Linked DNA regions of Homo sapiens: region 2 is linked to region 1. Evidence: fine-mapped expression QTL. A gene starts in region 1. The other region holds a variant in brackets. All regions are shown on one strand. Distances are between the middles of the regions.

Region 1 (4,388 bases):
GAACTCCTGACCACAGGTGATCTGCCTGACTCAGCCTCCCAAAGTGCTGGGATTACAGGCATGAGCCACCGCGCCTGGCCTACTTATTTATTTTTTTGAGACGGAGTCTTGCCCTGTCGCCCAGGCTGGAGTGCAGTGGCAGGATCTTGGCTCACTGCAACCTACGCCTCTCAGGTTCTAGCAATTCTCCTGCCTCAGCCTCCCTAGTAGCTGTGATTACAGGCGTGCACCACCATGCCTGGCTAATTTTTGTATTCTTAGTAGAGACGGGGGTTTCACCATGTTGGCCAGGCTGGTCTCGAACTCCTGGCCTCAAGTGATCCGACTGCCCTGTCCTCCCAAAATGCTGGAATTACAGGCATGAGCCACCGCACCCAGCCCCCCTTTCCAGATTCTTAACAGTCCCTAGATGGTATTAAGTAGCATTTTTGTTTGTTTGTTTTTTGTTTTTTGAGACGGAGTCTTGCTCTGTCACCAGGCTGGAGTGCAGTGGCACGATCTTGGCTCGCTGCAACCTCCACCTCCTGGGTTCAAGCAATTCTGCTTTAGCCTCCTGAGTAGCTGGGACTACAGGCAATGCCACCATGCCCAGCTAATTTTTTGTATTTTTAGTAGAGATGGGGTTTCACCATGTTGGCCAGGATGGTCTCAATCTCTTGACCTCGTGATCTGCCCGACTCAGCCTCCCAAAGTGCTGGGATTACAGGTGTGAGCCACCGCAGCGGTCCTGAGGTAGATTTGTTTGTTTGTTTGTTTGTTTGAGATAGGGTCTTGCTCTGTTGCCCAGGATGGAGTGTAGCGGTGCAATCTCGGCTCACTGCAACCTCCACCTCCTGGGCTCAAGCAATTCTCTTGCCTCAGATTCCCAAGTAGCTGGAATTATAGGTACGCACCACCATGCCTGGCTAATTTTTGTATTTTTGCTAGACAGGGTCTCGCCATGTTGGCCAGGCTGGTCTTGAACTCCTGGCCTCAAGTGATCCACCCGCCTCGGCCTCCCAAAGTGCTGGGATTACAGGTGTGAGCCACCACGCCAGCCAGGTGCTGGGAATCTGAAGGAGGGACAATGACCCTGCCTAGGGTAGGTGGAGAGATTGCATAGAGGCAGAGCCCTTGGAAAGAAACACTTGAAGGATGAGGAAGAGTTTAACTGATTCAGAAAAAGGAAAAGCTCAATGTGGGTAGAGAGCCAAGGACGTTTGGAAGAGTGAGAGATGGGGTGATGAGGCCAGCTGAGGGAGGCTTTGGCAGTCAGGCCAGAATTCAGACTTGACTCTGAGTTACTGGGGAGTTCCTGAAGGATTTTGAGCAGTGGAGTTCTTTGGCCAGGATTCTGAAGGAAAATCTCTCGGGCAGTGGTGTCCAAAGACCTGGAGTCCTTTTATGAATCCATTGTCTGAGCTGGAAAATGTATGGCTTCACCCACTCCCAATCCCATCATGGCTTCTGGTCCACTTTTTTCTTTTTCTTTTTTTGAAACAGCGTTGGCCTGGCATGGTGGCTCACGCCCGTAATCCCAGCAGTTTGGGAGGCCGAGGCGGGCAGATCACGAGGTCAGGAGATCGAAACCATCCTGGCTAACACGGTGAAATCTCGTCTCTACTAAAAACACAAAAAAATTAGCCAGGCGCGGTAGCAGGTGCCTGTAGTCCCAGCTACTCGGGAGGCTGAGGCAGGAGAATGGCGGGAACCCGGGAGGTGGAGCTTGCAGTGAGCCGAGATGGCGCCACTACACTCCAGCCTGGGCAACAGAGCGAGACTCCGTCTCAAAAAAAGAAAGAAAGAAAGAAAAAGAAACAGGGTTTTGCTGTGTTGCTCAGGCTGGAGTGTAGTGGTGTGATCACAGCTCACTGCAGTCTTGATCTTCTGGGCTCATGCAATCCTCCCACCTCAGCCTCCCCAGTAGCTGGGACTACAGGATTGTACCAACATGCCTGGCTAATTTTTTAATGTTTTGTAGAGATGGTAGAGGGGCACGTCCCTCTGTTGCCCAGGCTGGTCTGGAACTCCTTGGCTCAAGCTGTCCTCCCTCCTCCGCCTCCCAAAGTGCTGAGATTACAGGCGAGAGCCACCTTGCCCGTCCTGGGAACTGTTTTCTAATCAGCTCATCAAAACCTTCATCTCCCCTGCTAACAAAGGGAGCCACTTCCTTCCTCTCTGCACATACCCCATGTCTCACCACGATGATGGAGCTACAGTGGGACTTGGAATCCAGATGTGTGAAGGATGGAGGGTTGAAGGTACGTAGACAGGTGATGGGCAAAGGGGTCCAGGAGGTGGCAACCCCAAGTGTTCTTGGCCTTGGCCTTCCCCACCTCTCTGGGACTGGGCCAGTTTGAGCATCTCAGCTGCCTCTTCTGCCCGCCCCCTTGTTAGCCGCACTCAGCTTCCTGCCCCACCAGAGGAAGTGGGGAGAGACGGCAGGTGCAGTGATGGCTGGCGGAGTCATGGTGAGTCCTTACACCCAGAAACCTGGGCATCTCGGCCCCCAGCCCCCATGCCTGGGGTCCCCAGACCCCACTGACTCTTCCTAGCCCAGGAACTCAAGTGATCCTGGGGACCCTGCCTGCCATTGCCAGCAGCCTCATATTGTCCACCCCCATCCATAGGACAAGGAGTACGTGGGTTTTGCTGCCCTCCCCAACCAGCTGCACCGCAAGTCTGTCAAGAAGGGGTTTGACTTCACGCTAATGGTGGCAGGTCTGGGGGTTTTGGAGAGGGAACTGCGGAGGGGATGTCCTTAGGAGGCCCTGGCTGTCCCCTCCCCTGACCAGTTGGGCCTGTTCTGTCCACAGGGGAGTCAGGCCTAGGGAAATCCACCCTCATCAACAGCCTCTTCCTCACCAACCTCTATGAGGATCGCCAGGTGCCAGAGGCCAGTGGTAAGACCCTCCCCACCCTCTTGAGGCAGTAGCCCCTGTCCCCAGGTTACACCCTAGTCTTTTCCATCTGGGGACTCAGGTAGTTGACTGCTTTTTTTCTGAGACTTTCCTCCCCTGGGAAATGGGTGCAGGCAACTGTGATATTGACAAAGGAAATTAATTCTGCCTCAGAGCCTCCCCGGATCCCTGACCTCTCCCCCATCCCACAGCTCGCTTGACACAGACCCTGGCCATTGAGCGCCGGGGCGTAGAGATTGAGGAAGGGGGTGTGAAAGTGAAGCTGACCCTTGTGGACACACCTGGCTTTGGGGACTCAGTGGACTGCTCTGACTGGTGAGGAAGAGGAAAGGGGACAGAGGCTCAGCCTTTCACAGTGGCGACTCCCTGGAGAGTTACAGGACTGGTTTGTGCTGGCTCCCTATCTCAAAAGGTGGTGTCTGTTTCAGAGGGCCACTGGGTCCCTGTGCTTCTTGATGACTCACCTAGGCCCCCACCAGTTCCCCTTAATGTCTTTGGAGGGAGCCAAAGAAATGACATTCTACTCCCACAGTCCTGGCTAGCCTTGCCCCCTGCCCTCTGGCCTTTGATCTCTGACCTCACATCCTCTCCCCACACCCAGCTGGCTTCCGGTGGTGAAATTCATCGAGGAGCAATTTGAGCAGTACCTTAGGGATGAGAGTGGCCTGAACCGGAAGAACATCCAGGACTCCCGAGTCCACTGCTGCCTCTACTTCATCTCACCCTTCGGCCGGGGGTCTGGTGGGGGGATCCTGGGGGCTGGCGCATTTAGGGAGGGCTGGGGGGTCTCTGCCCCCTGAGGCTGGGCAATGACCAATCCCTGGGTGCAGGCTCCGGCCCCTAGATGTGGCCTTCCTCCGGGCAGTACACGAGAAAGTCAACATCATCCCAGTCATTGGCAAAGCGGATGCTCTGATGCCCCAGGAAACCCAGGCCCTCAAGCAGAAGGTGTGAGTGATGACCTCTGACCTTTGACCCCATGTGAAGCCAAACCTGATTTCAGCTTAGACTTCTTTGATCTTGAAGTGGCCTTTCTGGAGCATGGTGCATCAGGCTAGATTGTAGGAGAAGCTTCTGAGGAAGGCGGGTGGTAAGCCGCCAGCATAGCCATGTCTCTGAAGGCTCAAAATAGGCTACATATGCAGCCCCCGGGCTAGATGCCTGGCTGAGGCCTATTTGAGGGCAGGAGCATAGACATGAGAACATAGTGACTTCCCTCTGGCCCCCACCCCGTGTCTTCAGAGCCCTTTCCCACTGTTTCTGCTTATATCTCTCTCGGCCTCTCTTTCTCTCTCTTTTTTTTTTTAGATAGAGTCTCACTCTGTGGCCCAGGCTGCAGTACAGTGGCAAGATCAGAGCTCACTGCAGCCTCGAACTTGTAGGCGCAAGTGATCCTCCTGCCTCAGCCTCTTGAGTAGCAGGGACTATAGATGAACACCACCATGCCTGGCTAACTTAAAAAATATTTTTTTGGCTGGGCTTGGTGGC
Region 2 (4,388 bases), 35 kb after region 1:
TCCTGCACTCAACCGATCCTCCCAGATCAGCCTCCCAAAGTGCTGGGGTTACAGGTGTGGGCTACTGTGCCCAGTGTGCTTTTCTTTTTTAGTTGTGTGTGTATATATGCAGTTTATATGTATACAGTTTGTAAGAGATACATATAGATAGATAGATAGATATAAACTTTTTGTTTGAGTAAGTTTTTTTTTTTTTTTTTTTGAGATGGAGTTTCGCTCTTGTTGCCGGGCTGGAGTGCAAATGGCACGATCTCAGCTCACTGCAACCTCTGCCTCCTGGGTTCAAGGGATTGTCCTGCCTCAGTCTCCCGAGTAGCTGGGGCTACAGGCACCTGCCACCACGCTTCAGTACCCTTCAGTGGTTTTTTGTATATTCACAGGGTTGTGCAACCATCACCACAGTCTAATTTTAAAACCTTTTTTTCCTACCATGAAAGAAACCTGACCCATGAGTAGCCCCTTCTCACTACTCCCCACCTTTCCTCACCCCCCAGCCCTGGCAACCACCCATCTACTTCCTGCCTCTAGATTTGCTTCTTCTGGGCATTGAAGATAAATGGAATCATATATGTGGTCTTCTGGGTCTGGCTTCTACTTGGCCCTATGCTTTCAAGTTCAGCCATGTGGATATCTTCATCTATGTTTATTGTTTTTTTTTTTTTGAGACGGAGTCTTGCTCTGTCACCCAGGCTGGAGTGCAGTGGCACGATCTTGGCTCACTGCAACCTCTGCTTGCTGGGTTCAAGCGATTCTGCTTCAGCCTCCCAAGTAGCTGGGATTACAGGCCTGTGCTACCACACCTAGCTAGTTTTTGTATTTTTAGTAGAGACTAGGTCTCACCATGTTGGCCAGGCTGGTCTCAAACCCCTGACCTCAGGTGATCCGCTCCCCTTGGCTTCCCAAAGTGCTGTGATTACAGGCGTGAACCACCGTGCCCAGTCCTTTTGTTTATTGTTGAATAACAGTGTATTGTGTGGATGTACGGTACATTAATACTAATTCAACTTCACCCTTTTTTAAAATTTTTCTTACTAATTCAACTTCACACTTTTTTTTTATTTTTCTAGTTTTCCCCTAATGTCCTTTTCTGCTTCAGGATCCCTTGTGACACCACATTATATTTAGTTGTCACATCTACTTAGCTTCCTCAGCCTGACAGCTTCTCAGGCTTCACCTTTGTTGATCTTGACAGTTTCAAGGAGTGCTGGTTTGTATTTTGTAGAATATTCTTTTTTTTTTTGGCGGACGGGGGGCGGGGGACGGAGTCTCTCTCTGTCACCCAGGCTGGAGTGCAATGGTGTGATCTCTGCTCACTGCAACCTCCACCTCCCCGGTTCAAGTGATTCTCCTGCCTCAGCCTCCCGAGTTACTGGGATTATAGGCGTGTGCCACCATGCCCAGCTAATTTTTGTATTTTTAGTAGAGATGGGGTTTCACCACGTTGGTCAGGCTGGTCTCAAACTCCTGACCTCAGGTGATCTACCTGCCTCGGCCTCCCAAAGTGCTGGGATTACAGGTGTGTGCCACCGCACCTGGCCTCAGAATATTCTTTTTAAAAACAACTTTATAAATTTAAAATGTATATATATATATATATATATACACACACATTATATATATATACATGCATATATATATACACATATACACGCATATATATATACGCATTATATATACGCATTATATATATATATGTTTTTTTTTTTTTTTCTAGAGATGAGGTCTCACTATGTTGCCCAGGCTGTTCTTGAACTCCCAGGCTCAAGTGATCCTCTCGCCTCAGCCTCTTACAGTGCTGAGATTACAGGTGTGAGCCTCCACACCCAGTTGAATATTCCTAAAATTTGGGTTTGTCTGATCCTTTTTCTCATGAATAGGTTTGGTTTATGGAGTTTAGGGAGGAAGACCACAGAGGTGAAGTTCTTTGCTTTTCACTTAAAACTTTTTTTTTTGAGACCGGGTCTTGCTCTGTCAAGCCGGGTAGAGTGCAATGGTGCAATCATGGCTCAGTGCGGCCTCAGGCTTCTGGGTTCAAGTAATCCTGCCTCGGCCTCCCTAGTAGCTGGAGCAAGAGATGCATGGCGCCATTCCTGGCTAAATTTTTGCAATTTTTTTTTGTAGAGACGGGGTTTTACCATGTTGCTCAGGCTGGTCTCGAACTCCTGACCTCAGGTGATCCGCCCACCTCAGCCTCCTAAAGTGCTGGGATTACAGGCGTGAGCCATGGC[A/G]CCCAGGCCTGAATGCAGCCTCTTGCCTTGGCCAGGTTATTCTTCAGAGAAGTAGCAGGAGTTGGGGAAGGAAGTCTCGGCACTCCTGACAGAGGCCTGGGGCGTCAGACTCTGTCCTGGGCAGCTGCTGTGGCCCTGTGAGAGACAAGGCCTGCACAGGAGTCCAGCAGGGTTCAAATAAGTGAAGGCTCCGGCTCCTCATGCCGGAGGAATGAGGGCTCTTCACGTCTCTGCCACATCTGCCACCCCTTCCCATGAGGAGTGTCTAGTTACCCAGACCCTAGAGCGGCAGTGCGGCCAGCTTGATGACGTGCTGCTAGTCGTTTCACCCAGGCTCCCAGGCAGGGGGTCAGGCTGAGCTACTTGCCTTCCGTTCTGCTCCCGGCAGGAACCAAGCCGGAGACCTGGACATGCCCAGCTCCTCCTGATGCCAAGACCTGAGAGGAGTTTCTCCCAAGGATGGATTTCAAGGTAGATGTTTTGTGTGGGGCCCAAGTAACAACAGTGCTCCGTGGAGTCAGCAGCCACTCTGAACTCCCTGTGGAGCCCAGTCCCCAGCTGCCGGGCACCCTCGGGGGTATGCTCCACAGGGGAGGGTTCAGTGGCCCCTGACCACCTACACCCCCTGCGGTGGGCCACCGCTGCCATCTCCAGTTGGCCGCTGCAGGTGGCTGCAATCCTGTCCCCGCTAGGCCCCTGTTCCCCAGGAGGCTTCTCTGTCCCTTTATGTAAGATGCCAGCTTCCCAGCTGCCCATGCAGACGTGGCACATGACCTGCCTGTAAAAGTCAGCAGCAGGCGCTGGCAGCCTCTGGTTTCCCTCTTCTTATTTATTTGTATTTATTTATTTATTTATTTATTTATTTATTTATTTATTGAGACTGAGTTTCGCTCTTGTTGCCCAGGCTGGAGTGCAGTGGCGTGATCTCGGCTCACTGCAACCTCCGCCTCCCGGGTTCAAGCAATTCTCCTTCTTCAGCCTCCTGAGTAACTGGGATTACAGGCGCCCGCCACCACGCCCAGCAGATTTTTGTAGTTTTAGTAGAGATGGGGTTTTGCCATGTTGGCCAGGGTGGTCTTGAGCTCCTGACCTCAAGTGATCCACCTGCCTTGGCCTCCCAAAGTGCTGGGATTACAGTTGTGAGCCACCGCGCTCTGCCATTTAGTTTTAGAGACAGCGTCTTGCTGTGTCGCCCAGGCTGGAGTGCAGTGGTGCGATCATAGCTCACTGCAGGCTGGACCTCCTGAGCTCAAGTGATCCTCCCACTTCAGCCCCTTTATTTTTATTTTTTATAGACGTGGGGTCTCACTATGTTGACCAGGCTGATCTCAAACTCCTGGCCTCAAATGATCCTCCTGCCTGGGTCTCCCAAAGTGTTGGGATTACAGGCATGAGCTGCCGTGCCCAGCCCAGTTTCTCCATTCTGATGCCATCGTACTTGCTCTTACTTTCCTGATACCCCACCCATCCCTATTCCCTCCCCATACAGCTGCCTTGCAGCTCTTGGTGGCTTCAGACCTTGTAGCTCCAGTGCACTCTTTGGGACACATTTTTCTGTCTTGAACACTTCACATTCCTTTGGATACAATGTGGGCATTTGCCCTCTGGCCTCAGACATTGAGACCTCTTACCTGGCCCAGCCTTCCCCGGCTTACACACTAAGCCCGTTCTCTGCCAGGCATGTAATCTCAGCTGAGGTGGGCAGATGGCTTGAGCCAAGGAGTTTGAGACCAGCTGGGCAATATAGCCAGACTCCATCTCTACACACACAAAAAGTGTATATATATATATATATTTGTATGTATACATATATACATCCTCTATTTGACAGGGGAAGAAGAGGGTGTCTGGCATTTATTAGGGACCTAAATAAGTTCAGAATATTATGTTTAATCTCCTTGACTACCTATTTAGTTACGTATCTCTCCCACTTTGCTGATGAGAAAAATGAGGCTCAGAGAGGTGACATTCAACATCACATAGCCTGAGGGTGGTAAAGCCAGGATTTTAACCGAGGTCTGTGGGACTCTAAAGTCCTGTCAAAATTTTTGGTCGAGTGTTTGCTCATATGTTTTGCCTGTTTTAAAAACTGAATTGTTTGTCTTCTGATTGACTTGTAAGAGACCTTGATCATTAGATATTCCAGATAATGAGTCCTTT

What was found. PIP is the estimated chance that this variant, and not a neighbour inherited with it, causes the effect.
Region 2: its variant is the best candidate, but not a certain one, in a credible set for the expression of SEPTIN1 in caudate (GTEx, PIP 0.89).

Annotation. Positions count from the first base shown.
Region 1 is chr16:30,380,587-30,384,974 of GRCh38, reverse strand. It overlaps SEPTIN1 (septin 1), which reads left to right and starts at 2,414. Exons shown (of 11, transcript NM_001365977.2): 1 at 2,414-2,450; 2 at 2,610-2,700; 3 at 2,796-2,882; 4 at 3,092-3,215; 5 at 3,502-3,636; 6 at 3,731-3,848. The coding sequence starts at 2,433. It also overlaps a transcript of ZNF48 not described here.
Region 2 is chr16:30,345,928-30,350,315 of GRCh38, reverse strand. No RefSeq gene overlaps it. Among named protein-coding and RNA genes, the nearest start is that of CD2BP2, 7.2 kb to the left of the region's middle. RefSeq lists an enhancer at 2,085-2,584. The variant A/G (reference allele first, on the strand shown) is at 2,229.